Homo sapiens: one gene and its partners. The protein of the gene in region 3 purifies or fractionates together with the protein of the main gene of each other region. This does not show direct contact. Each region holds a gene or a part of one and is shown on either strand. Other genes may lie near its edges. The genes, in order: AGPAT3, TMEM11, SLC7A1, MAVS, MTCH2, TSPAN15 and SGPP1.

Evidence for each region.
Region 1: the proteins of SLC7A1 (region 3) and AGPAT3 purify together in Homo sapiens (affinity purification with mass spectrometry; 3 studies listed by BioGRID and IntAct, with this or other methods). This does not show direct contact.
Region 2: the proteins of SLC7A1 (region 3) and TMEM11 purify together in Homo sapiens (affinity purification with mass spectrometry; 3 studies listed by BioGRID and IntAct, with this or other methods). This does not show direct contact.
Region 4: the proteins of SLC7A1 (region 3) and MAVS purify together in Homo sapiens (affinity purification with mass spectrometry; 3 studies listed by BioGRID and IntAct, with this or other methods). This does not show direct contact.
Region 5: the proteins of SLC7A1 (region 3) and MTCH2 purify together in Homo sapiens (affinity purification with mass spectrometry; 3 studies listed by BioGRID and IntAct, with this or other methods). This does not show direct contact.
Region 6: the proteins of SLC7A1 (region 3) and TSPAN15 purify together in Homo sapiens (affinity purification with mass spectrometry; 3 studies listed by BioGRID and IntAct, with this or other methods). This does not show direct contact.
Region 7: the proteins of SLC7A1 (region 3) and SGPP1 purify together in Homo sapiens (affinity purification with mass spectrometry; 3 studies listed by BioGRID and IntAct, with this or other methods). This does not show direct contact.

Annotation. Positions count from the first base shown.
Region 1 is NC_000021.9:43,959,223-43,962,722, reverse strand, and holds part of AGPAT3 (1-acyl-sn-glycerol-3-phosphate acyltransferase gamma), read right to left. Parts: intron 3,090-3,500; coding exon of another isoform or gene 3,042-3,089; coding exon 2,864-3,041; intron 2,092-2,863; exon of another isoform or gene 1,944-2,091; intron 1-1,943. UniProt on the Homo sapiens protein: Converts 1-acyl-sn-glycerol-3-phosphate (lysophosphatidic acid or LPA) into 1,2-diacyl-sn-glycerol-3-phosphate (phosphatidic acid or PA) by incorporating an acyl moiety at the sn-2 position of the glycerol backbone.
Region 2 is NC_000017.11:21,200,808-21,204,161, forward strand, and holds part of TMEM11 (transmembrane protein 11, mitochondrial), read right to left. Parts: intron 1-3,354. UniProt on the Homo sapiens protein: Plays a role in mitochondrial morphogenesis.
Region 3 is NC_000013.11:29,515,689-29,519,188, forward strand, and holds part of SLC7A1 (high affinity cationic amino acid transporter 1), read right to left. Parts: intron 2,103-3,500; coding exon 1,885-2,102; intron 1,623-1,884; coding exon 1,456-1,622; intron 559-1,455; coding exon 450-558; intron 1-449. UniProt on the Homo sapiens protein: High-affinity, low capacity permease involved in the transport of the cationic amino acids (arginine, lysine and ornithine) in non-hepatic tissues.
Region 4 is NC_000020.11:3,860,334-3,863,833, forward strand, and holds part of MAVS (mitochondrial antiviral-signaling protein), read left to right. Parts: intron 1-998; coding exon 999-1,171; intron 1,172-1,920; coding exon 1,921-2,080; intron 2,081-3,500.
Region 5 is NC_000011.10:47,629,060-47,632,559, forward strand, and holds part of MTCH2 (mitochondrial carrier homolog 2), read right to left. Parts: intron 2,653-3,500; coding exon 2,595-2,652; intron 2,029-2,594; coding exon 1,977-2,028; intron 1,556-1,976; coding exon 1,496-1,555; intron 1-1,495. UniProt on the Homo sapiens protein: Protein insertase that mediates insertion of transmembrane proteins into the mitochondrial outer membrane. Catalyzes insertion of proteins with alpha-helical transmembrane regions, such as signal-anchored, tail-anchored and multi-pass membrane proteins.
Region 6 is NC_000010.11:69,454,465-69,457,964, forward strand, and holds part of TSPAN15 (tetraspanin-15), read left to right. Parts: intron 1-3,500. UniProt on the Homo sapiens protein: Part of TspanC8 subgroup, composed of 6 members that interact with the transmembrane metalloprotease ADAM10.
Region 7 is NC_000014.9:63,700,566-63,704,065, reverse strand, and holds part of SGPP1 (sphingosine-1-phosphate phosphatase 1), read left to right. Parts: intron 1-3,354; exon of another isoform or gene 3,355-3,500.

The DNA of each region.
Region 1 (3,500 bases), on a different chromosome or scaffold from region 3:
CCCTCGCTCAAGAGTCCTGGTTTAGCTTCAGCGCCCTCTGCTACAGCTGCCCAAGGGTTAGGCTCCTGAAAGGCAGTGCTGACATTCCATTTCTGCACACCCCGGTTTTTGCTAAAGGGATTTGGTGGAAGGGTGGAGCTGAGAGGTTTTTGTTTCCTTACTGTGAGCCCAGAAATGCATTAAAAAGCCAGTTTCAGGCAGGATTTAGCTGTTTTGTAGTATTTTAGCTTCAGAATACTGCTAGAAAGTAGGAGTCTGTAATTTAGTTTTCATCAGTTAATATTTGCCCTTTTTGTATGTATTCATCTTATCCAGTTATACTCATGAATAACTCATTTGTATATTTTATATTATAGGATTTCCAATTCTCCCTTCCCACAGAAAAAAGCAGCAGCCTTTCATTTAAAAAAGGAAACAAACTGGCCGGGCGCGGTGGCTCACGCCTGTAATCCCAGCACTTTCGGAGGCCGAGGTGGGCAGATCACGAGGTCAGGAGATCAAAACCATCCTGGCTAACACAGTGAAACCCCGTCTCTACTAAAAATACAAAAAAAATTAGCCAGGAGTGGTGGCGGGTGCCTGTAGTCCCAGCTACTCGGGAGGCTGAGGCAGGAGAATGGCGTGAACCCAGGAGGCAGAGCTTGCAGTGAGCCGAGATCGCACCACTGCACTCCAGCCTGGGCAACAGAGCGAGACTCAGTCTCAAAAAAAAAAAAAAAGAGAAAAAACAAACCAGGAACTGAAGCTATAACACATTTAAGACAAGCTAGTCTAAGGGCTGGGTTACTAGTCTCTCTGCAGACAGTGGGGTGTCGCAGGCATGAAAAGTTAGCTGACATAAACAGCCTTTTCAGCAGTGCTACCGGCTCCTGAACTGGAAGGAGATCGTGCAGACAAGGTTACAGGCCAGCCATTTCCCATATGAGACAAAGTGTCTATGCGCTCACCATTTCCTACATGAGACAAAGTGTATACGCGCTCACCGTTTTCCATATGAGACAAAGTGTATGTGGGTTCACCATTTCCCACATGAGACAAAGTATCTATGCGCTCACCATTTCCCACATGAGACAAAGCGTATACGCGCTCACCGTTTCCCATATGAGACAAAGTGTATGTGGGTTCACCATTTCCCACGAGACAAAGTGTCTACGCGCTCACTGTTTTCCATATGAGACAAAGTGTATACGCGCTCACCGTTTCCCACGAGACAAAGTGTCTACGCGTTCACTGTTTTCCATATGAGACAAAGTGTCTACGTGCTCACCCTTTCCCACATGAGACAAAGTGTCTATGCGCTCACCGTTTCCCATATGAGACAAAGTGTATGTGGGTTCACCATTTCTCACGTGAGACAAAGTGTCTACGCGCTTACCGTTTCCCACGAGACAAAGTGTCTATGCGCTCACCGTTTCCCATATGAGACGAAGTGTCTATGCGCTCATGCAAAAACATGGAAACAGCATGAGAGTGTGAAATAAAACGTAAGAATCCCCTCCTTTCCCCACTCCCTGGATATCAGCATCACGCAGTTTTCTCGGGCATCCTTCTGAGATTTTTGTTTTCTTTTTTTTTTTTTTTAGACAGAGTCTTGCTCTGTTGCCCAGGCTGGAGTGGTGCAGTGGTGTGATCTCAGCTCACTGCAGCCTCCACCTCCCAGGTTCAAGCAGTTCTCCTGCCTCAGCCTCCCGAGTAGCTGGGATTACAGGTGTGTACCACCATGCTCAGCTAATTTTGTATTTTTAGTAGAGACAGGGTTTCACCATGTTGCTCAGGCTGGCCTTGAACTCCTGACCTCAGGTGATCCACCTGCCTCAGCCTCTCAAAGTGCTGGGATTACAGGCATGAGCCACCATGCCCAGCCCCTTCTGGGATTTTTCCACACATGTACACACCACACACACAGCATCCTTTCTTAAGACACAAAATGAATCATAGCATACTATGGACTTTGTTGTATACTTCCTTTTTCGCTTAAAACTGTACGGGCAAGATGAAGGCTCTCCATGATGGCCGCAGAGGGTCCCTGTATGGGTGCCGCATAATTAGTCTCCAGTGACAGGTGCTTGGGTTGCTTCTAGTTTTGTGCTACTATAAAAATAATACAATAATGAGAATACCTGTGATAAAATGAGAACACCTGTCCAGTTGCATACTTTTGCACATCTCTGTAGGTTGCATGTTATTCTGTGGAATTGCTGAGTTGAAAATTGCAACCACTTAAACTGTTGACGGCCACTGCCAAACCACCCTCCAGAGATGCGCCTGTTCATGTCCCCACGACGCCCGGTGTGAGCGGTTACCTGTCCACAGTGGGTGTTGTTACCAAGCCTCTGAGTCTCTGTCCACATGACAGGTACAGATCGGTTTCTCTATGTATAATACACATACGCACAGAGGCACATACGGACAGACACACAGCTACACATGTGTTTGATACGCAGGGAGGCAGGACACCTTTTCTTTCAGGGATGCATGCTGAAATACGCGTCAGCATGCTCTGGTGTTGGCGCAGTGTGGGCAGGACACACGAGGGGCCATGTAGGGAGCTGTTGGAGCTTGGTAACGGGTAAACAGAACTCAACATTCTCTTTACTTTTGTTTAAACATTCCCATATGCTCTGGTAAACCGTGGGAAGCTGCCATTGCTATGGGTCAGAATGGTGAGAGTGGCACGTCACACAGCTCAAGCTAAGAAAAAGAGGTAGCCAGGTGCCTTCCGACAGCCTGCCAGCCAGATGGCCTCGGCACCTCCTGCATAGCCCTCACTTCCTGCCTGAGAGCCCACGGCTGCCCCGTGCATGGTCGCGCGCCACCCCCACGGGAGCCCCAGGCGGCAGGGACTGGCCCAGCAGACACTCACGGCTCCAGAGTGAGTAGGCGAGGCGGCAGTTGAGGCGGCGGTAGAGCTGCTTGCTGACCGGCCAGAGCGCCAGCGTGCACAGCTGGACGAAGTTGATGACCAGACCACTCACCACGAAGACAAAGCCGACCAGCAGGTGCAGCACGAACTGGGTCTTCAGGAAGGCCAGCAGGCCCATGGCGCTGCTCAGGAGCGGGTGCACGGCCCCTCGCTGAGGACAGCCGTCCTGCAAAGACAGGGACAGGGACAGCGTCAGGGTGGCCACGCCCACACCCTCACAGGAACACCGGGGCACTGCTCACTGCACACCCCGCACATGCCTCACGCTTATACACACATGCTGCACAGCACACTGCAAACCCCACACACGTGCCACACACATACAAACCACACACATGCCACACACACCACACTGCAAACCACACACACGCCACACACCACAAACCACACACACACCACTGCAAACCACACGTCACACACACACCACAAACCACACATGCCACACACATACCACACACACGCCACACACACACAACCACACACACGCCACACACCACAGCTCATCACAAACCCCACACATGCCACACACATGCCACACACACCGCAAACCACACACCACACACACACCACATCACAA
Region 2 (3,354 bases), on a different chromosome or scaffold from region 3:
GCACACCTGGCTGCGGTGCAGAGGAGAGTCATGGGGAGCTGAGCCACCTGGCCATTGGCCGTAATATGGGAGTGACGAGTGAAGACATTCATAACAAGCCACCCCAGAACCTCAGCCCAGCATGAAGGTAACTCCCTCCAGCCTCCTTCAAAGATGGGAGCAATTCCAAGTGAAGGATGGTGGAAATCGGACTGTCGGGAAACTTCAAGGAAAAAGAACAGGCAATCGTAGTTCTTCCTACTACTGAGACTCCTCCCAGCTCAAAGCTTTCAGCAAACAAATAAGCAAACCTAACAGGCAGGGTTGCATTCTGGTTGGATAAACAACTAGTTAACGATCTCATGTGGCCACATTAAAGATGAAAGTCATTGGTAATGGGCTGACTGTGCCCCCAAGCATGGGGACCCTAACCCCGCCCCTGGGTGGGAACCACTTTCATAAAAGGCACTGGCTTGGACTTGGGCAAACGGAACTCTTTATCCTGAAAAAGTCACTGTAACTAAGCCAGGCTAAGGCAAAGCCTCCTAATTCAATCATAGGCCCTAATTAAACGGCATGCACTGGGGAGAAATCAGTGCCCTGAGGGTGGGACAAGAGCCTCCTAAACATGGGTTGCTGCCAAGCCACCTGTGACTGTGCCAGTGTCACGGCTGCCTCGCCAGGGATGAAATGATGAGCTGTTACTGTAAGACTGCACGAGCAGCTTATGAAATGGGGAAAGGAGGGTTTTCCTTCTAAAGTTCTCGGTGGAGTTTTTCCATTTGGTCTTAGAGGAGAGGTAAGGGAGAGGCCAGCTGTTACTTCCAGGTAGGATTCAACAGTTTTTATTTTTGAGACAGGTTCCTGCTCTGTCACCCAGGCAGGAGTGCAGTGGTGTGATCTCTGCTGATGGCAGCCTCGACCTCCCGGGTTCAAGAGATCCTCCCACCTCTGCCTCCCGAGTAGCTGGGACTACAGGTATGTGCCACCACGCCTGGCTGCCTGGCTAATTAAAAAAATTTTGTTGTACAGATGGGGTTATGCCATGTTGCCCAGGCTGGTCTCGAACTCCTGGGCTCAAGTGTTCCACCCGCCTTGGCCTCCCAAAGTCCTGGGATTAACAGGCATGAGCTACCGCATCCAGCCAGATGCAGCATTTTAGAAGCTACCTACAGCAAACAAGCACACCCAAAGCAGGGTCTTCACTGGCGCTGGAAAGCTGAAGGCCGAGCAGTGCCCCCACGTGCTCAGATGAGAAATGAGTGGCGGTGGCGCAATGGGCTGGCTGTGGCCCTGGGTGTGCGGGGAGGGGCGGGGCCTCCACTCTCAGGTGGGAGCACTCCTGGCCAAGAGAACTCCCTTCTGGTCTCAAGTCCATCAGGCAACAGGAGCAGAGAGGCCAGATAACAAGGTAGGGGTGGAGGACCAAATCGTGTCCCAATCTTGAGACGGAAATGGAGTTGCTTCCAAGTCAGCTGTGCATCCTACTGACTGTCAAAGCCAGGCCAGGGACACCTTGGGGCGGGCACCAGAGGCGGGCTTCCTCCCTCAGGAACACTCAAAGCAAAAGGGAGGTGTCAAGCTGGGGTTACACAATGTTCTCGCCAACACCCAAATCCACCCTAGTGCGGTACCTTTCTCTGCCCAGCAGGCCAGCGCCATCCTGAATGTAGTGAAAACCACTGTTGGTCCCACAGAGGAAATTCCAGTGGAAACCCCGGTCCTGGAACCGACTGCCCCATCTGGAAACACAGCAGTGGGCAGATCCCACCCCCTCACCCCCTCCGGCCCCCCTGCAAGCCCAGCTGGCACCCACATCCACCCAGACCCCTCTGCAGGCTCCATCGCTTGCTGGGACGGATGGGTGGGTGCGTCCACGAGTCCCAACCAGCCTGGAAGCAGCGAGAAGCCAAGGCCCTCCAGGCTCCCTCCCACCTCACTGCTGTTGCCAGGTGTGGCCCGCCCCCCAGCACAGGGAGTGAGGAGACTGGGCATCCTCTGCCCTCGGCTGTGGGCAGTCCTGTGAATGACACAGCCATAAGCAAGCACGTGGACATGGGGGCACTCGCCAGCACACATCCTGAGATGGTGGCGTGGGTCTGCCCCCACCTGCCTGTCAAACCATGGCCCCGGCCTCCTGCAGCCTCGGCGTCTTCATATGGGCTGGGCACTGTTGCTGCCCACTGTCTAAGACACCTATCCACAGCAGAAACACAAAGGACATAAGCCACACTGCCTTCAAACAAAGGCAGGGTCCTGCACAACGGCGCTGAGGCCAGAGGCTCACCAATTCTGCTTTTAAAGCCAGTTAGGCAAAGGGAATCTCGGTTTCCACTGGGAAAGGACAACACGTGAAGTCTAGGGAAGTGGATTTCTAGGATTCTATAAGGCAACAGACCCTATATGGAGACGGTAAGGTTCAAACCAAAACACACACAGACGCACCCAAAGCCGCAGGATCCCTCCGTTGGAGCTCACCCGGCCACGACCAGGCAGTCAGCACTCCAACTTCCTGGTACACTGGTGGGAGTGGGGTGCTGTCAGTGCAGACACAGGTTTTTTAGCTGCCACTGCTGGGCCCTTGGGTTCAGGTCTGCACTGCTGACAGGGACTGCTGCACTTCTCTTACTTCAGAAATTCGTGGCCATGACCAGGTGCGGTGGCTCACGCCTGTAATCCCAGCACTTTGGGAGGCAAAGGTGTGCAGATCACTTGATGTCAGGAGTTCGAGACCAGCCTGGCCAACAAGGTGAAACCGTCTTTACCAAAAATTAGCCAGGCGCGGTGCTGCACACCTGTAATTACAGCTACTCAGCAGGCTGAGGCACAAGAATCACTTGAACCTGGGAGGCAGAGGTTGCAGTGAGCCAAGATTGTGCCACTGCACTCCAGCCTGAATGACAGAAAGAAAAAAAAGAAAAAAAAAGAAAAAAGAAACTGCCAAGTACTCCCAGGAGACAGCCACGTCCAGCCAGCTCCTGACCACCCAGCAGCCACCCGTATATGGCTTGCTTCTGCTTGTGGGTCAAACAAAACCTAATGAAGGAAAGAACCCAGTCAGAAGGTTATCTCAAACCACTGCAGAGCATCACCAGCTGCCCCCTAACTGGTAAGGCCATGGGCTTTAGGAACTGGGTGATCTGAACCCTGGTGCATGGGAGATCTTTTTTTTTCCTTTTTTTTTTTTTTTTTAAATTATATGGACTTTTTTTTTTTTTTTTAAGTAAGAGCTAGTTGGAATCTTTTGAGCCCTGGGCTTCCTAAGGGACTGTATTTTTGCTTTTCATTGCAGGTGTGAAATGACCAGTAAGAGAGCAATTAATAGAGTCTATGTTTAAAAAAAAAAAAAAAAAGAAAGAAAAAGTGGCCAGGTGC
Region 3 (3,500 bases):
AGCTCCCCACCCTAGTGGCATCTCCCATAGGCTCCAAAGCACTCTCCCTCCACAGAGAAGACGCAATCACAGAGGAGCCCATGACATCCACCCTGCCTGGGCCTAGTGCCCGTACCAATTTGGTGCTGGGCAGGCCAGGGGGCCAGGAGGCACAGGCCAGACTTTCCTGTCTGGGGTGAAAATAACTGGTACCTTATCTGCAGCAGACTCATCACCTTGTTCCTGTTAATATCAAGGTCTTGCCCAAAAGAATAAATAGTTTGGACAAGAAGCAATGGAAACAAAAAGTATCTAACAGGGAGGAGAGGACTCACAGCCTACCAGGGATTCAGCATTATCTTCGAGAAAGCTGCTGACTGGATGTGCGTCATTCTGTTATGAAATCTGAAACAAGGGAGACCCCCAGGGGAAGCCAGGATCTTGGACGTGCTGGCAGCAGCATCACATACCTATCAGCATCCACACAGCAAACCGGACCCAGGTGCCCTGGTCCAGCTGCATCATGAGATAGACGTTCACGAAGATGCTCAGGATGGGGAGCACTGGCAGGAAGGGAACCTGAAGAGACAGGAGGTGGCTTCAATCCATGGCAGTGGCGCCGGTTCCAATAGTTCAGTAAAACTGTCTAGTAAAGGCAGCACAACTGAGAGTGACAGGGACCGTCGGGCGAGTGTGGGGAAGAGAGAGGGAGTGCCCACCCCCACTCCCACACCCCACACACAGCCCGCACCCAAACACACACACAAACACACCCAAGGGTACATCTTAGTAGGTGGGGATTTGATTCTAAGCTCTGAATGGCCAAATGAACTCCATTCTCATTTTTCTCTGTTGCGATTCTCCTGCTAAAGAAAGGACTAGAAGACGGACCTCCACTTTACCTCTAAGGTCAACAACCTTTTTTATTATTTGTGTAATCTAAAAATGCAGAAGCCTTGCCCGTCTCCAAGGCTTGGAAAACTCATGCATCAACTTGAGCAGACATTTACGAGAAGCATCCCACCACCCCGGAGGGACTGCTCCACTGGGTCTGCTATTATGTATAAACTTAGGGGCAAGTGGCTTCATGAGCAGCACCCTTGATACTGTCTGGGGAAGAGGCAGCACATTTCATAAAACACTGATCACAAGGGACATTTATTTTCCAGAGAATTCAGAAATAGATGCCGAATATCCAGGGACTGGCGAGGTCTCTCTTGGCCTGTGTCATGCAGGAAGGTGTCAGCCTGCCCTTGACTACTCAGGGAAACGTCCAGGGGAGAAGGGCTGCTGCCTCCTTCCAGGGTCTGGTCCTCTCTGTGCCTTCAGGACCCCTGCCCCATCTTACCTGAAGCTGGCTAGCAAAAACCTTCCTCGGGAGCACCCAGGCCCGGCTGAGCCCACGCAGGGCTGGCCAGGCATCAGGAGGGCCAGGGTCTGTGTACCAGGGTTCCTTCCCTAGGCCGAGCTGCTCACCTTAAATGAGAGCTTGGTCTTGCTCTCGGGCTGCCTCCAGATGACGCCCGTGACCACGGCACAGAGGAGGGCAGACCCTGCGAGCAGAAAGACTGCCCACAGCGCCCCTTTGGTGAGAGCCTCCCTTCCAAGCACGGTCACAATGCAGAAGGTGATGATGAGAACAGCTAAGGGGGAAGGAAAAGACAGCAAGCTGCAACTCAACCATTTCCCAATTTCCCACAGGCATCCACTGTTCTCCCCTAAACTTGTGGAGAGAGAGGCTCCATTTCCGAAGGCACAACTACAGTTAACACAGAGTAACTATGTCCCAGTCCAGGAGCAAGACAGATGCTCATCTTCTCTGGCACCTTCCCCCAACTCCAGCTCCACTGCCTAGAAACCATGCAATGCCAACAAGCAAGGCCCCAGGGAAGGGCTAGCTCTTACCTATGAGGCTGGTTGAAATGTTCACAATTAGCCCAGAGATTTTGGAAGGCTCCATGTTTTTGGGTGAGAGTATGGTTTTCAAAGAGAACATCTCTGCCTCTGGTAAAAAGCCCAGCTGGGAATCATTGGTGCTTGCCAATTCATTTTGGTCTGCTGGATCTAACTCGTCGGAAGTACTGGCCATCTGGTATACCAGGTTAGGCTGCTCTGGCTGGTACCTGGGAAGAAAGGCATTGCGTGACCGCCACATCTGCTTCAAGCAAAATGACGTGCACCAACTCAAGTTCTCAATAAGCCTCCAAAGTGAGCTGCCCGGGACACAAGGTATAAAATGGGAAGGATATAGTCAAATGCTGCATTGTAGATAGACGAGGAGAGACCGGGAACACCACCTCCCGCTGTTGCTTCTGGGGAACATCCTCCATGGTCTCTCCTTCGGGGCGACATGACCTCCACCATGAGCAGCCCAGAGGAATACCCTGAGAGGATCTCTCTTGCTCTGAGAAGTGGCAGCGGCCCTCAGATGCTAAAGATACTAGGCCACTTCCCACAAAATTACTGCTGTAGGGAGCAAAAGGGAAGGAGAGAAATAGGAAGCAGTAATGCCAGGATCCTATTTGGCACAGAGAGCCAGAGAAATGTGGCTGCAGGCTAGATGGATTTGAGAAATTCTATTTGTGTGACTTAATTGGATCAATTTATTTTAAAACTCCAAGTACCTTAGGGTAAATAATTCTATGTGGCTTGTTGGAGGGCCGAGCCTGCAGCGTGATTTCCAAGACATGAGCTACCTGCTAGTGGAGCATCCATTCTGAATGAGGTGCCTTATCTTCCCACCCGAAATGAACAGAGTGCAAATCTTTTCCACCAGCTTTGAAACACAGAGTTCTGTATGAATTATTTTGCATATGATCAATTCTAAGAGGGAGTATAAAGATATTAACCATTTTTGTATGGATTCACTTGTGCAACCCCACTCGGTCAATTAAGAAAGTGGGAGACCTCAGAGAATATTCTAGCATTGGGCCCCTTGGGAGGAATAAGGGGTCCCCAATAGTCTTAGCTGATTCTAAAGAGCTTCTGCTAAGGCTCAGCCCGGGTTTTATGTGCATCAGCTGCTGAACACCTTGGAAATGCAATCAATGGCCTTGCAGGTGGGAATCCCTGAAAAGAAATGAGGAGGCTCTTGAGGGGAGACCAGTGCTGAGCGTCTCCATGAGCACAGGTTCTCAGGATGGAAGCTGCGCAGGGATGTGCTTTGGGAGTGGGTGCTGAGGCAGGTGAGAACACCGAGACACCAAGCCTAGGCCCAGAGCAGCTTTACTGTGACTGGGAGAGGCTTGCCTGGCCCCCACCAGGCTATAACAAGCTGACTCCACAGTGTCTCTGAACATCAACCTAGGGCACGCCATGCCACATAATGGGATTCATTCCTCCAGCCACAGCGCAACGAAGCTGCAGAAGCATTATGCTGAGCTGGGTTTCACAGGCCTTGGGTTTTCCTAACTCCTACCAGGGCAGCCCTCAATCCTCTCTGTCCCAAGAATCTGAACCAAGTTGCAATCAGTCTTCAAACCTTCTGATCCCAGGATCCTGGCCTAATAGTTGGACCGAGA
Region 4 (3,500 bases), on a different chromosome or scaffold from region 3:
TCTCCTTCCTCAGCCTCCCTATAGTCCCTGATTCCTTCTATTTTTTTTTTTTTTTTTTGAGACGGAGTCTCGCTCTTGTTGCCCAGGCTGGAGTGCAATGGTGCAATCTCAGGTCATGGCAACCTTCACTTCCCAGGTTCAAGCAATTCTCCTGCCTCAGCCTCTCGAGTAGCTGGGATTACAGGCATGCGCCTCCACGCCTGGCTAATTTTGTTATTTTTAGTAGAGACAGGGTTTCTCCATGTTGGTCAGGCTGGTCTCGAACTCACGACCTCAGGTGATCCACCCACTTCGGCCTCCCAAAGTGCTGGGATTACAGGCGTGAGCCACCACGTCTGGCTTCTTTTTCTTTTTTTCCCCCGAGACGGAGTCTTGCTCTGTTGCCCAGGCTGGAGTGCAGTGGCGCGATCTCAGCTCACTGCAACCTCCGTCTCCCAGGTTCAAGCAATTCTTCTGCCTCAGCCTCCTGAGTAGCTGGGATTACAGGTGCTTGCCAGCACGCCTGGCTAATTTTTGTATTTTTAGTAGAGACGGGGTTTCACTATGTTGGCCAGGCTGGTCTTGAACTCCTGACCTCCTAATCCACCTGCCTTGGCCTCCCCAAATCCTGGGATTACAGGCATGAGCCATCGTGCCCAGCCCCTGATTCCTTCTTTTTTTTTCTTTCTTTTTTTTTTTAGACGGAGTCTCGCTCTGTCGCCCAGGCTGGAGTGCAGTGGCGCGATCTTGGCTTACTGCAAGCTCCGCCTCCCGGGTTCACGCCATTCTCCTGCCTCAGCCTCCTGAGTAGCTGGGACTACAGGGGCCCGCCACCATGCCCGGCTAATAATAATGTTGTATTTTTAGTAGAGATGGGGTTTCACTGTGTTAGCCAGGGTGGTCTCGATCTGACCTCGTGATCTGCCTGCCTTGGCCTCCCAAAGTGCTGAGATTACAGGCATGAGCCACTGTGCCCAGCCCTGATTCCTTCTTGATATCACTACATCTTTGTCCTCTAGGGACCTCGGACCGTCCCCCAGACCCACTGGAGCCACCGTCACTTCCTGCTGAGAGGCCAGGGCCCCCCACACCTGCTGCGGCCCACAGCATCCCCTACAACAGCTGCAGAGAGAAGGAGCCAAGTTACCCCATGCCTGTCCAGGAGACCCAGGCGCCAGAGTCCCCAGGAGAGGTCTGTCCTCATAGTCTACCTTGAGCCACCACTTTTGTGTTCCTATCTGCCCACTTCTGCCCATTGAGCCTTCCAGAAACCCTCTCCCGTCCCCTATAAATCACGCCTAATCTCTGCTCAGAACCCTAGGGCTTCCTCAGTGGGGATCTGCCCCAGACCAGCTTCCAGGCTGCTGACCAGGTCTTCACCCTGTGGCAGCCCTAATCCTCTGTCAGCAACCAGCTGGGAGACCACAGTTTTGTGTGTGTGTGTGTGTGTGTGTGTGACAGTGTCTCATTCTGTCACCCAGGCTGGAGTGCAGTGGAGTGATCTTGGCTCACTGCAACCTCTGCCTCCTGGGTTCAGGTCATTCTCCTGCCTCAGCCTCCTGAGTAGCTGGGATTACAGGCACCCACCACCACGCCCAGCTAATTTTTGTATTTTTAGTAGAGATGGGGTTTTGCCGTGTCAGCCAGGCTGGTCTCGAACTCCTGACCTCAGGTGATCTGCCCACCTTTGCCTCCCAAAGTGCTGGGATTACAGGCGTGAGCCACCGCACCTGGCAATGCTGTGTGTTTTCTGTGAGGTAGACGTAAGGACACCTGTGGACAGAGGGTCTGGGAATTACCAGAACCCAGGCAAGGGCTCCCCTGGCTCCTGTGCTCCATGGTGTGGGCTGAGGCCTATAGGAGATGCCCCAAGAGCACAAGCTGCCCTTTGTGAGCTCTTGGGAGAGGCAACTGCCTTATTCATATTTTCCCTCATTGCAGAATTCAGAGCAAGCCCTGCAGACGCTCAGCCCCAGAGCCATCCCAAGGAATCCAGATGGTGGCCCCCTGGAGTCCTCCTCTGACCTGGCAGCCCTCAGCCCTCTGACCTCCAGCGGGCATCAGGAGCAGGACACAGAACTGGGCAGTACCCACACAGCAGGTATGCATGGAATCTGGAATTATAGGGTCCTTCTGATCTCTCAAGTGAGGGTAAGAATTAGAGTTGCCCCATCTGGCTTCCTTGAACAGGAGACAAGGTGGGAATAAAGGGAGTTCAACCCAGGAAGCAAACCAGTTCCTTAGTGGGTGTATCAGTTAGCATTTGCTGTGTAACAAATAGTCCACTCCAGTTTTCCAAATTTTTTTTTTAGTAGCTTAAAATACAGCCATTTATTTAGCATATGATCCTGTGGGTCAGGCATTTGGGCTACCTACATGGGCATTTCTTCTGGTCTTGGCTGAATTTCCTCTCAAGTACTCACCGGTATATACATAAGTTCTGCCTCTGGCTGTTTGCTGAGCACCTTGGTTCTCTTCTATGTAGTCTCTCATCCTCCAGCACACAAACCCATCATGGCAGCTGGGCAGAGTTCTCAGAGAGGGCTCAAAACTGGCACAGTGTCCCCTGTGCTCCATTCTGTGGGCAAAAGCAAGTTATAAGGCCAGCCTAGATTCAAGGAGTAGGGAAATAGACTCCCTCCCTAGACGGGAGGACTGACAGGCACAGTGCAGTGGGGCTGGGTGGAGATGAGCGAGATAAGTAGGGCCATTTTTGCGCTCTGCCAAAGGGACTGTAGGGAACAGCCAGGGCCTATAGGGCAGTGGGAGAGGGACAGTGAAGGGCTGCATCAGCTGTTGGCAGGGGAACCTTTAGGCACTGTCTTACCGCAGAGATCTCCAGTTCCCAGTGAATCATGAAAACTTCTCAGTCCCCAGAGGAAGTAAGGTCTTCATCATCCAGTGGCCTGGACTCAACTCCAGATGTCAGTGCTCCCCCTCAGAAATATATAGTTGTCCATCTGGACCTCTCAGGCCAGCATGTCTCTTTCCTACTTCCCAAACTATTCCACATGACGCTGGTGCCCAGTCAGCCCTCAGTGCCCTGGGACAGCCACAAGACACATGAGCAGTTAGAGGCTGGGAGACGTCATCTTAGTACTTTTGTCATCCCCAAACTGCTCCAAGCACCTGTCTGCTTTGCAGTGTCACCTGGCCACGGGATGCCTTTCAGGAGTTGCTGTAGACCACAGAGGCAGAGGGCGCTTAGGTTTCAGTACGTTTGTAGACACAGGTCCCATGAGATTCTGTGGTATTAGATTGTGGTGGGGGAGCTGTACATCAGAATCACCCTGACTTTTGCCAGCTGTGGGGCTTGGCATGTGCATTCCGAGTTCCGTGGAGAGTCCTGCTGCAACTGCCTTTACAGACCATCACCACCTGCTATCCTCTGCTTCCCCCACCCAGGTCAGGCAGCCTCCCAGGGGTGGCTTTGTCCTTGTCCCCTCTCTTCCCAAGCCTCCGGGATGGCCAGGCCTCTCGGCTGGTGTGAGCTGTTCTGCATGAGCCATCCTGCCACCCCT
Region 5 (3,500 bases), on a different chromosome or scaffold from region 3:
CAATAAAAATAAGAACCAAAAAATGTGATCAGTAACATGACAGGCTCTTCAGTACAAATGTTTGTCAAATAATTAGAGGTCACAAAACATTCTAGGGAAGTAAAAAAGGAATCAAACACCAGAATCCAGCCCGCATACCTAGTTCATTCTCGTTAACACAGCTGTACTTGAAGCTGATCTCCAGTGACTTTTGTTCCTATGTTTAAAATGCAGGTCGGCTATACCCTCAGTGGCTCACCTTACTATTCATAACTGTAAGCAGGGAGGCAAAAGATTTGCGAGGTGCTTTGCAGAAGAGACTTAAATATTGTTTTGCTTTGACTAGCTTAAAAAAATGATTTTGCTAAGCTATCTGATATTCATATTTGGCAGAGCAAAAGACGAGAAAAATTACAAAGCAAGAATGGTCCCAAGTACAGATACAGATGAGAGGCATCAAAAACCACATTTCTAGGGTCTGGGTGACCTAGGTGAGGCAGCATGGAATAGTGGGAAGAGCATTTCCCCACGGATTGAAGACCAGCTTCAAATGCCAGCTCCAGCACTCAGCAGCGATGTGACAGGCAGCAGATGAAACTCTCAGAGCATCAATGTTTTTTAATCTCTAAAGTGATACTAATTATAGCTGTCCTGCCTATCTCACAGGGTATTTATGATATTCAAAATCCGTATGGGGAGATACTCTGAAAATTAAAAAAAAAAAAACAAAAAACACCATTTCGGTAATGATGCAAAATTTTTCCTCATAGAAGAATGAGGGTAGTAGTCTAAGTTCTTCCAAAGTAAATTCAAGCCTTGCAAAAACTTACTCTTTTACGGTAAGGAAAATACAAGTTAAGATGATTTCCCCATTTTTCAACATTTAATTTTTCTCATTTTATTATCTATATAGAATTGGGAGTTTACTACAAGGGTAGAAACTTGGAATTAAGTCCTTTGTTAAAAAAAGAAATTCCTTATTTATTTATTAATTATTATTATTTTTTTGAGACGGAGTCTCACTCTGTCACCCGGGCTGGAGTACAGTGGTGCAATCTCAGCTCACTGCAACTTCCACCTCCCGGGTTCATGCAATTCTCCTGCCTCAGCCTCCCGAGTAGCTGGGATTACAGGCACACACCACCACACCTAGAGGTGGGGTTTTACCATGTTGGCCAGGCTGGTCTTGAACTCCTGACCTCAGGTGATCCAACCGCCTTGGCCTCTCAAAGTGCTGGGATTACAGGCGTGAGCCACCACGCCCGGCCTCAAATGTTTTAAGTATCTAGAAGTAAAGGTTTGGGATCTTTACAAGATAATTCTAGTCATATGGGGCCTAAATATGCCTTTCTGCAGAGAAAAAAGAAAAAAAAATAAGGGGCCTAAATAGAATGTAACGTGAGGTAAGCCCAGGGAGTACGTTTTCCCCAAGGATTAAACAAAGACTCACTATTCTTACTTTCAGAAAACGTTTCCCACTCATGCAAAAATTACACACTAATCAACATTTACTCACGCGAAAAATCCTAGAATGCCCTCTTCCCGATAGATGGTTATTATGGAATCACAAAGTCCACTACGTACACAAGAAGAAAAGGTAAAATATATTAAGATTCTTTTGGAGCTATAAACAAAATAATTTCAATTATCACATTGGACAAGGTCAAATCCACGACCTCCTTCCCTCACACTTTTCTAGCACTCTCTCACTCTGCAAAGATAGCTAAATTTGGAGATAGAAGTGAAAATATTAACTACCTAGGGGTATAGTCATATGGAGTCAGGGGCTCTGCAACTTACTCTGAAATCCTACGTAGGCTACTAAACCTGCCTGGGTATATTTTCTCCCATTTTATTGTTTTTTGTGCAGATCAAATGACATCAGATACGAATTTGTTCTACAAATTGTAAGGGTATCATAAAAATACAAAGTAGTATTATTCTAGTACTTTGGCTTCAAAAGATCTCCTTGAGTATGTGAAAACAAAAATACTTACCAGTACTTGGATTCTCTGCCAATGAACTGTACCATAGATCTCAGAGTGATCACTGTGGAATATAGAGAAAAGATGTTTACAACTATGTTAAGGCCAGGTGCGGTGGCTCACACCTGTAATCCCAGCACTTTGAGAGGCCGAGGTGGGCGGATCACCTGAGGTCAGGAGTTCAAGACTAGCCTGACCAATATGATGAAGCCCCATCTCTACTAAAAATACAAAAATTATCCAGGCGTGGTGGCATGCACCTGTAATCCCAGCTCCTTAGGAGGCTGAGACAGGAGTACTGCTTGAACCCGGAAGGCTGAGGTTGCAGTGAGCCAAGATTGTGCCATTGCACTCCAGCCTGGGCAACAAGAGTGAAACTCCGTCTCAAAAACAAAAAACAAACAAACAAAAAAAAACTATGTTAAGATAGATTTTGATAGCCCTGGGAAAAAAAAAGATTTTCCACCTAAAGACATTTTGCTATCTGGATAAATTGGATAAAAGCCAAAACAAGCAAGCAAACAAAAACATGCAGGCAAGGCATTTTAGTCAACTCCCACGTCAACCTATCTAAGTGGTCAGGAGAGATCAGGTTATAAAAGAAAGGTCAGTTGTCAACTGCAAACATACCATGGAAGGGATGTGTGATGAGGGTAGCAGCAGAACGAGCGATCATCTCTCGAGTTGTCTAGAAACAATCAACACACACTTCTGAAATCTAAACAAATGACACTCAAATGCCTGTGAGAAGGAATGTGGGTGGATATCGTGGTATAGGATAAGAAAGTGAATGACACAGCCCTCCTGCCCTGGCTGGAGTCAAGAAGAGTTTGAATGGGATGTGAAAGATCTCATTCATTGTCATTTTATCATACTTTTCACTCATGGATCTCAATGTTCTATTATAGTTACTTCTCAAAATTTCTCTGCAAAGCAGGCTTCTGTTGTTTTCTCAATTTTACAGGTAAGAGAAAAAAATAAAGAAACAGGAAAGGTCACCAACAAAGTCATTAAGCTGAAATAAAAAATATGAGGCCTTTATTGAGATTATTAAGTTGCTCTCTTATTGGTAAGTGATTTTGGAGAGTCTGACATCATTCTAGATAAATGACAGGCTCCATTTAGTCTCTACTCACATTTTTGGGAGAAGAGAACAATTTTGTTTTGTGACTACAACCCAGTAACTGTGCAGTATCTTAGAGCTGCTGTGTTTTTCCTAGTTTATCTTTCTACTCTAGGGCTCTGTAAGGAAGTAATAAAGAAAATTAAATTATAATCTTTGCATTTAGGTTCTGGGATTGCAAATGTAAGCAGGTCTACCATTGGCTTTTGCATTTTTTTTTTTTTTTTAGGACAGTCTTGCTCTGTCACCCACGCTGGAGTGCAGTGGCGCGAACTCGGTTCACTGCAAGCTCCGCCTCCCGGGTTCACGCCATTCTCCTGCCTCAGCCTCCCAAGTAGCTGGGACTACAGGCACCCGCCATCATGCCCGGCTAATTTTTTTTCTTTGTATTTTTTAGTAGAGACGGTTTCACC
Region 6 (3,500 bases), on a different chromosome or scaffold from region 3:
CTGACATCGTGCCACGGCACTGTAGTTGGGTGACAGTGTAAGACTCGGTTTAAAAAAAAAAATTACTATTGACCAGGCATTGTGGCTCATGCCTGTAATCCTAGCACTTTGGAAGGCCAAGATGGGCAGATTGCTTGAACCTGGGAGTTCGAGACCAGCCTGGGCAACATGATGAAACTCTGTCTCTACTAAAAATACAAAAATTAGCTGGGCGTGGTGGCATGCACCTGTAGTCACAGCTACTTGGGAGGCTGAGGTAGGAGGATCACCTGAGCTCAGGAGACGGAGGTTGAAGTGAGTTGAGATTGTGCCACTGCACTCCAGCCTGCATGAGACTCTGTTGCAGAAAATAAAAAATAAAAAATAAATTACTACTGATAGAAATGCATGCATGGGCTTGTTACAAAATTTAGAAGTAGAAAAGGGTAAGGCCGGGTGAGGTGTAATCCCAGCACTTTGGGAGGCTGAGGCGGGCGGATCGTGAGGTTAAGAGATCAAGACCGTCCTGGCCAACATGGCGGAACCCCGTCTTTACTAAAAATACAAAAATTAGCTGGGTATGGTGGCGTGTGCCTGTAGTTTCAGCTACAGCGAGGGCTGAGGTGGAGAAACGCTAGAACCCGGGAAGCGGAGGTTGCAGTGAGCCTAGATAGCGCCACTGCATTCCAGCCTGGTGACAGTCTCAAAAAAAAAAAAAAAAAAAAGGAAAGGGTAGTGGTTAGTGACAAGCCTCCCCTCCTACCCCTCTCTCCTGGCCTGCCCAGTCCAGAGGAGGCCTTTGTTATCAGTTTCCTGTCACTCTTTTCTGAGCTATCGTAGTCAAAGGATGTCCTAGGACAAACATATGTATATTTAAAATAAGGTAGCACACTATACACAGAACTACGTATGTAGCCCCTCTTTCACTTAAATTTAAATCCACGTGAATTATGGAGATCTGCTAGGAGCTGCCTCATTCTGTGTGTTGGCTACATAGATTCCACTCTAGGCTATGCCACATTTATTTAATAGTCCCCAGCTGGGGAACTCTTAGGTTGTTCCCAGTCTTTCTTTCCCTCTCTTTCTTTCTCTTTCTTTCTTTCTTCTCTCTCTCTCTTTCTTTCTTTCTCTTTTCTTTCTTTCTTTCTCTTTCTTTCTTTCTTTCTCTCTCTCTCTCTCTCTCCCCCCCCCGTCTCTTTCTTTCTTCCTTTCTTTCTTTCACTGAGAACAGTGACACAGTGAGTATCTCTGAATGTGTCATTTTGCATGGGTGTATATGTCTGTGGAGTAATTCTAGGAGTGGGGTTGTTGAGTTAAGGGGTATATGAATATATGTTATACATGCAGACACGCACCTGCCATCAGTATATACAGCTTGATGAGTTTTCACAAAGTGAACACACCTGTACACTGAGCCCCCAGGTCAACCAGCAGAATGGACAGCAGAAGGCAGATACCCCTCAAACCCTCTTCTAGGCACTATCTCTTACCTTTGTGGGTGATCACCACTGGATTATCTAGCAGTATAGAATAGCTTTGCCTGTTTTTGTATGTGCATTTAACATTTTGATGTTATTAAATTGTCCTATATAGAGGTGACACCAATTGTAATATTATTTACTTAATATGTTTATTTAAATTTACTTACTTTTTTTTTTTTTTGAGACAGAGCCTCGCTCTTTCACCTAGACTGGAGTACAATGGTGTGATCTTGGCTCACTGCAGCCTCTGCCTTCCAGGCTCAAGCGATTCTCCTGCCTCAGCCTCCCGAGTAGCTAGGACTACAGGCGCCTACTACCACGATGGGCTAATTTTTGTATTTTTGGTAGAGACGGGGTTCTACCATGTTGACCAGACTGTCTCGACCTCCTGACCTTAAATGATCCACCAGCCTGGGCCTCCCAAAGTGCTGGGATTACAGGCGTGAGTCACTGTGTCCAGCCTAAACTTCCTTTTTAAACTTAAATTTCTTTTCCTTTTTTTCCCTTTTTTAAAGTATATATTTTTTATTTTCCAGGCACATAGGTTCAAGTTGCCCTGAATATGCACGCCTTTAAATTTATTTTTAAAAGGAGGCTTTATATCAGTATTATGAATGGGAAACCAAGACGCCCATCATAAATAGCAGGTAAAGGTTTAAAATAAGTACAGTACAGGGAAAACAAAACAATGATACTAAATCCTAGCTGGATGTCATGGGTGCTGAAGGCTGTGACCCTGACGCCTACCCTCTCTGTTCAAAAGGTAGGTTGGCAAGTGCTTGAGGGGCTGAAAGACAAACTAGCACCCAAACTGAGACCCGCTCCTTGATGCAATCGGAGGGGTCGAAAGGGCATTGAACGAGGAAAGCTCAGTCTGTAAGTCCCTATGATAGGTATACCCCTAAACCACTTATGGTTATCTGTCCCACACTCAGGGCCCTCTTGTTTTCGGCAGGGAACTTTGGGGCTGCAAAAGGGTGTGTTTGAGGCTCACTTGTCAGAGCTGGCATGTACCCCAGGTCCCTGCATCCTCAGGTAGGTGCTCCTTGGCCCTTCCAGTAAGTCATGGGGATGTCTGCGGGAGAAATGAGCTCACGCTGAGGCACTTAGAGCCTCCTTTTCCCACCACACAGGGTGAATCATTCTGACACATGCGCCCTCAGCCCATTGGGGACACACCTCTAATTTTAGCACTGCCCACGGGGTATCTTAGAGATCCGTTTACAGGACTGCTTTTCCTTGCTGGACTGTGGGCTCCCAGAGGTCAGGATTGTAGTTCATCCATATCCTCCTCTGAATGCTGCCCCTGGGGCCTGTGCACACAGTAGGTGCTCAGGGGAGGCATGTTGCATGATGGTGATTGAGTCCCACTTGTACCTACAAGGCGAGGATCCAGCTTGGGGCAGAGGCCTGGCTGGGGGTGTAACCCGCAGTGGTCAGGTCTGCTGAGGCCTTGACTTTGCAAAGTGGGCAGGGCTGATCATGGTGCTACGGACTCTCCACAGAGCACCAAGCCTGTTTCCTTGATAACAGGGTAGGACTTTCAAGTGGGTAAAGGTGTCATGGCTGGGGAGTGTTGACTAATCAGGAAGAAAAGGACTTGGTGGGAGTTGGGGGCAAGTAGGGAGGAGCTGAGGGTGGGTAGGTGGTGGAGGCAGCAAATGCCAGAGGCAATAGGAACTCTTTCTGGGCTTTCTCCAAGGATGAACCTGCTTATTAGAGCTTGGCCTGTGATTTCTTACATTTCTTATAGTTTAATGGTTAAGAGTGTGGGCTGTGTACCAGGTTGCCTGGGTTCAAATCCCAGCTCTGACACTTAAAGGTTAAGTGGCCTAGACATAACTTCCATGCACCTAACCTACCTGAAGAGTTGCTAAGCAGATTAGATGGATTAATACATCTGAAGAGCTTAGAGTGGTGCCTGGCACATGATGAACACTCCATCAACTAGTCATGGATTAGTCGTTCTTTTCCTGCCTTCCTCTCTAGCCTTGCTGCTCAAGAGCCATAGACTAAGAATGAGAAGGGCTGTTAAAGACA
Region 7 (3,500 bases), on a different chromosome or scaffold from region 3:
CACTTGAGCCCAGGAGTTGGAGACCAGCCTGGGCAACATAGCGAGACCCCCATCTCTATAAAACATTAAAAAATTAGCAGGGTATGGTGGTGCACACCTGTAGTCCCAGCTACATGGGAGGCTGCATTGGGAGGATCACATGAGTCCAGGAGTTGGAGGCTATGGTGAACTATGATTGAACCACTGCTAGATTGCACTCCAGCCTGGGTGATAAAGCGAGACCCCACTCCCCACCTGCCGCCAAAAAAAAAAAAAAAAAAAAAAACTTAAATAGGGATTACATTGACTATAGATCATTTTAGATAATAGTGCCATTTTAACATATTAAGTTTTAATGTATTAAGTCTTCTAATCCATAAACATGGGATATCTTTTCATTAATTAGGTCTTTTTTTTTTTTTTTTTTTTTTGAGATGGAGTCTCTCTTGCTCCGTTGCCAGGCTGGAGTGCCGGGGTGCAATCTCAGCTCACTGCAACCTCTGCCTCCCGGGTTCAAGCAATTCTCTTGCTTCAGCCTCCCAAGTAGCTGGGACTACAGGCACGCGCCACCACGCCCAGCTAATTTTTGTATTTTTAGTGGAGACAGGGTTTCACCATGTTGGCCAGGATGGTTTTGATCTCTTGACCTTGTGATCCGCCCACCTCAGCTTCCCAAAGTGCTGGGATTATAGGCATGAACCACTGTGCCTGGCCTTAATTAGGTCTTTAATTTCTTTCAGTAATGTTTTATAGTTTTCAATGGACAAACCTTTCACTTCCTTAGTTAAGTTTATTCCTAGGTATGGGTATTTTATTCTTTAGGATGCTACTGAAAGTGGAATTATTTTTCTTACTTTCATTTTAGGGTTTTTTTTTTATTGCTGGTATGTAGAAACACAGCTGATTTGTGAGTGTTGATCTTACACCCTGCAACTTTGCTGAATTCATTTATTAATTCTAATATGTTTTCTTCATGGATTATTTGGGATTTTCTATCTTTAGGATCACTTCGTCTGTGAATGGGGGTATAGTAGCCCCGCTCATCAGCAGAGGATATGTTCCACGACCCCCATTGGTGCCTGAAACTGTGGATAGTAGTCAACGCTATATATACTGTTTTTTTCCTGTACATATGTATCTATGATAAAGTTTAATTTATAAATTAGGCACAGTAAAAAAAAATATCACTTTATCTGTTATTTCCTTTAGCCATTAAGATCTGTAGTCTTTTTTGTCTGCTTACTGATGAAATTCTTTTTTACTTTGACACTTAGAAGTTCAGAATTCTGTTATTCAATGGGGAGTAAATATGAAAGTCATCATGTAGTCAGAACTGGATCAAGTGTTCCCCAAAATGTTTTCTTTTTAATTTTTTTTTAGACAGAGTCTCACTTCTTCACCCAGGCTGTAGTGCAGTGGCGCAATCTCGGCTCACTGCAACCTCTGCCTCCCAGGTTCAAGCGATTCTCATGCCTCAGCCTCCCAAGTAGCTTGGACTACAGGTGCGTGCCACTACACCTGGCTAATTTTTGTATTTTTAGTAGAGACAAGGTTTCATCCTGTTGGCCAGGCTGGTCTCAAACTCATGATCTCAAGTGATCAGCCTGCCTCGACCTTCCAAAGTGCTGCTGGGATTACAGGCATGAGCCACCATGCTTGGCCCCAAAATATTTTTTTTCCATAAAAAAATCTAGAGAACATATCATAAAGGTGGAGAGTAATGACCAAAAAAAGTCGGTCAATAAAAATGACTTATTTTGTTTTCTTTAGTCACCTCATCCCAGTGAAATCTGAAGGTGCCATGGAGCAGAGAAAAGGAAAGCCTCATAGCTTCTTTAGCCTCTGCATCTGGCTTGATAACATTCCATCTCTCCTTTTTAAACACCTTGGACATCGTAAAATTGAATAAATGTGGGTTAAGTCATACTTGGTTTCATTGCTCCTATTTAAAATCTCTACCCTTCCCCGTCCTACCTTCACCTCTAGCTTCTGAGACTCTATAGGTGATTTTTTCTTCAGTTTGTTGTGTATAAAGAACTCTTATCAGTAATTTTGTACATTTCTACTTCCTTATAGGGTCCAAGTTAGAGAAGGAAGTGCAGAAAGATTTTTTTAAAGTTGACTTTTTTTTTTTTTTTACTTCTTTTGGTTCTTTTTTTTTTTTTTTTGCTGTCAACAGCTTTTTAAAAATTAGACTTTAAAGGTTTTTAAAGACTTTAAAGGTCAAGTCCCTGCTGTAGAGACAGACACCACTGTTATCTCTTACCTAGATTATACCAACAGCCTTCTAACTGGTCTTCCTGTTTTTGCCTTACTCTCTTAAAATTTAATCTCTACATAGCAGCTTTACTCAAAACCCTGCAGTGGCTCCCCATTTGATTCACAATAGAAGCCAGTTTTCTTATGGTGGCCTCCCAGGCTCTACTTGATCTGGCCCCCCATTACCTCCCTAACCTCTTCTACTTGCTCTCTCTGCTATGGCCACAGCTAGCCTCCTTGCCAGTCATACTTGGTGATCAGAAACTTTGCTCACTGATTCGCCTGCCTAGTATATGCTATTCCCACAGATAATCTGCTTGGCAAGTATACTCACCTCACCTCCATTCCGTCTTGCCTCAAATCTCAACTTCTCAATAAAGCCTACACTATCTTCTATTTAATACTGTAACCTGCCCCATTTACACTCTGAAACTCATGACCCTATTTTTATATCTGTTTTAATTAAGTTAGACTTGTTGATACTGTGGCAATGACTTAATCCCAAAATTGCAATGACTTAACACATAACAAAATCTTGTATCTTGGCCAGGAGTGGTGGCTCATGCCTCTCATCTCAGTACTGTGGGAGGCCAAGGCGGGTGAATTGCTTGAGCCCGGGAATTTAAGACCAGTCATGGGCAACATGGCGAGACCCTGTCTCTGCAAAATATTTTTTAAAAAATCAGCTGGATGTGGTGGCACACCTCTAGTCCCAGCTACTCTGGAGGCTGAGGTAGGAGGGTCGCTTGAGTCTGAGAGGTGGAGGTTGCAGTGAGCCGAGATCATGCCACTGCACTCCAGCCTGGGCAACAGAGCGAGACCCTATCTCAAAAAAAAAAAAATCTTGTGTTACAAATCCATTATGCGTTAGCAAACAGCTTTGTCCACTTTGACCCTCAAGGACCTAGGCTGATGGAAGCTTGCCCGTCTCGTGATGCATCTCAACATGTAGTTTCCCAGGGTCACATCTATAGGAAAGAGAGAGTTCAAAGGAAGATTGAAAGTGGCATAAGTCACTTTTTTCCCCAGCTCACTGGCCAAAATTAGTTGCATGACCCTAATGTAAGTGAATCCAAAATGTAGGAGGAGCACAAGGAATATTAATGAGCATTACTATTTCTTCAACACATGTTCTCTTTTTATTTTCTCCATGTTACCTATCAGGTTTTATTATATGATTTATATATTTTATATAACTTATACATATTTACATATCATATCATTTGCATGCTTTTGTGTTTACTGTTTAATGCCTCCTCCAG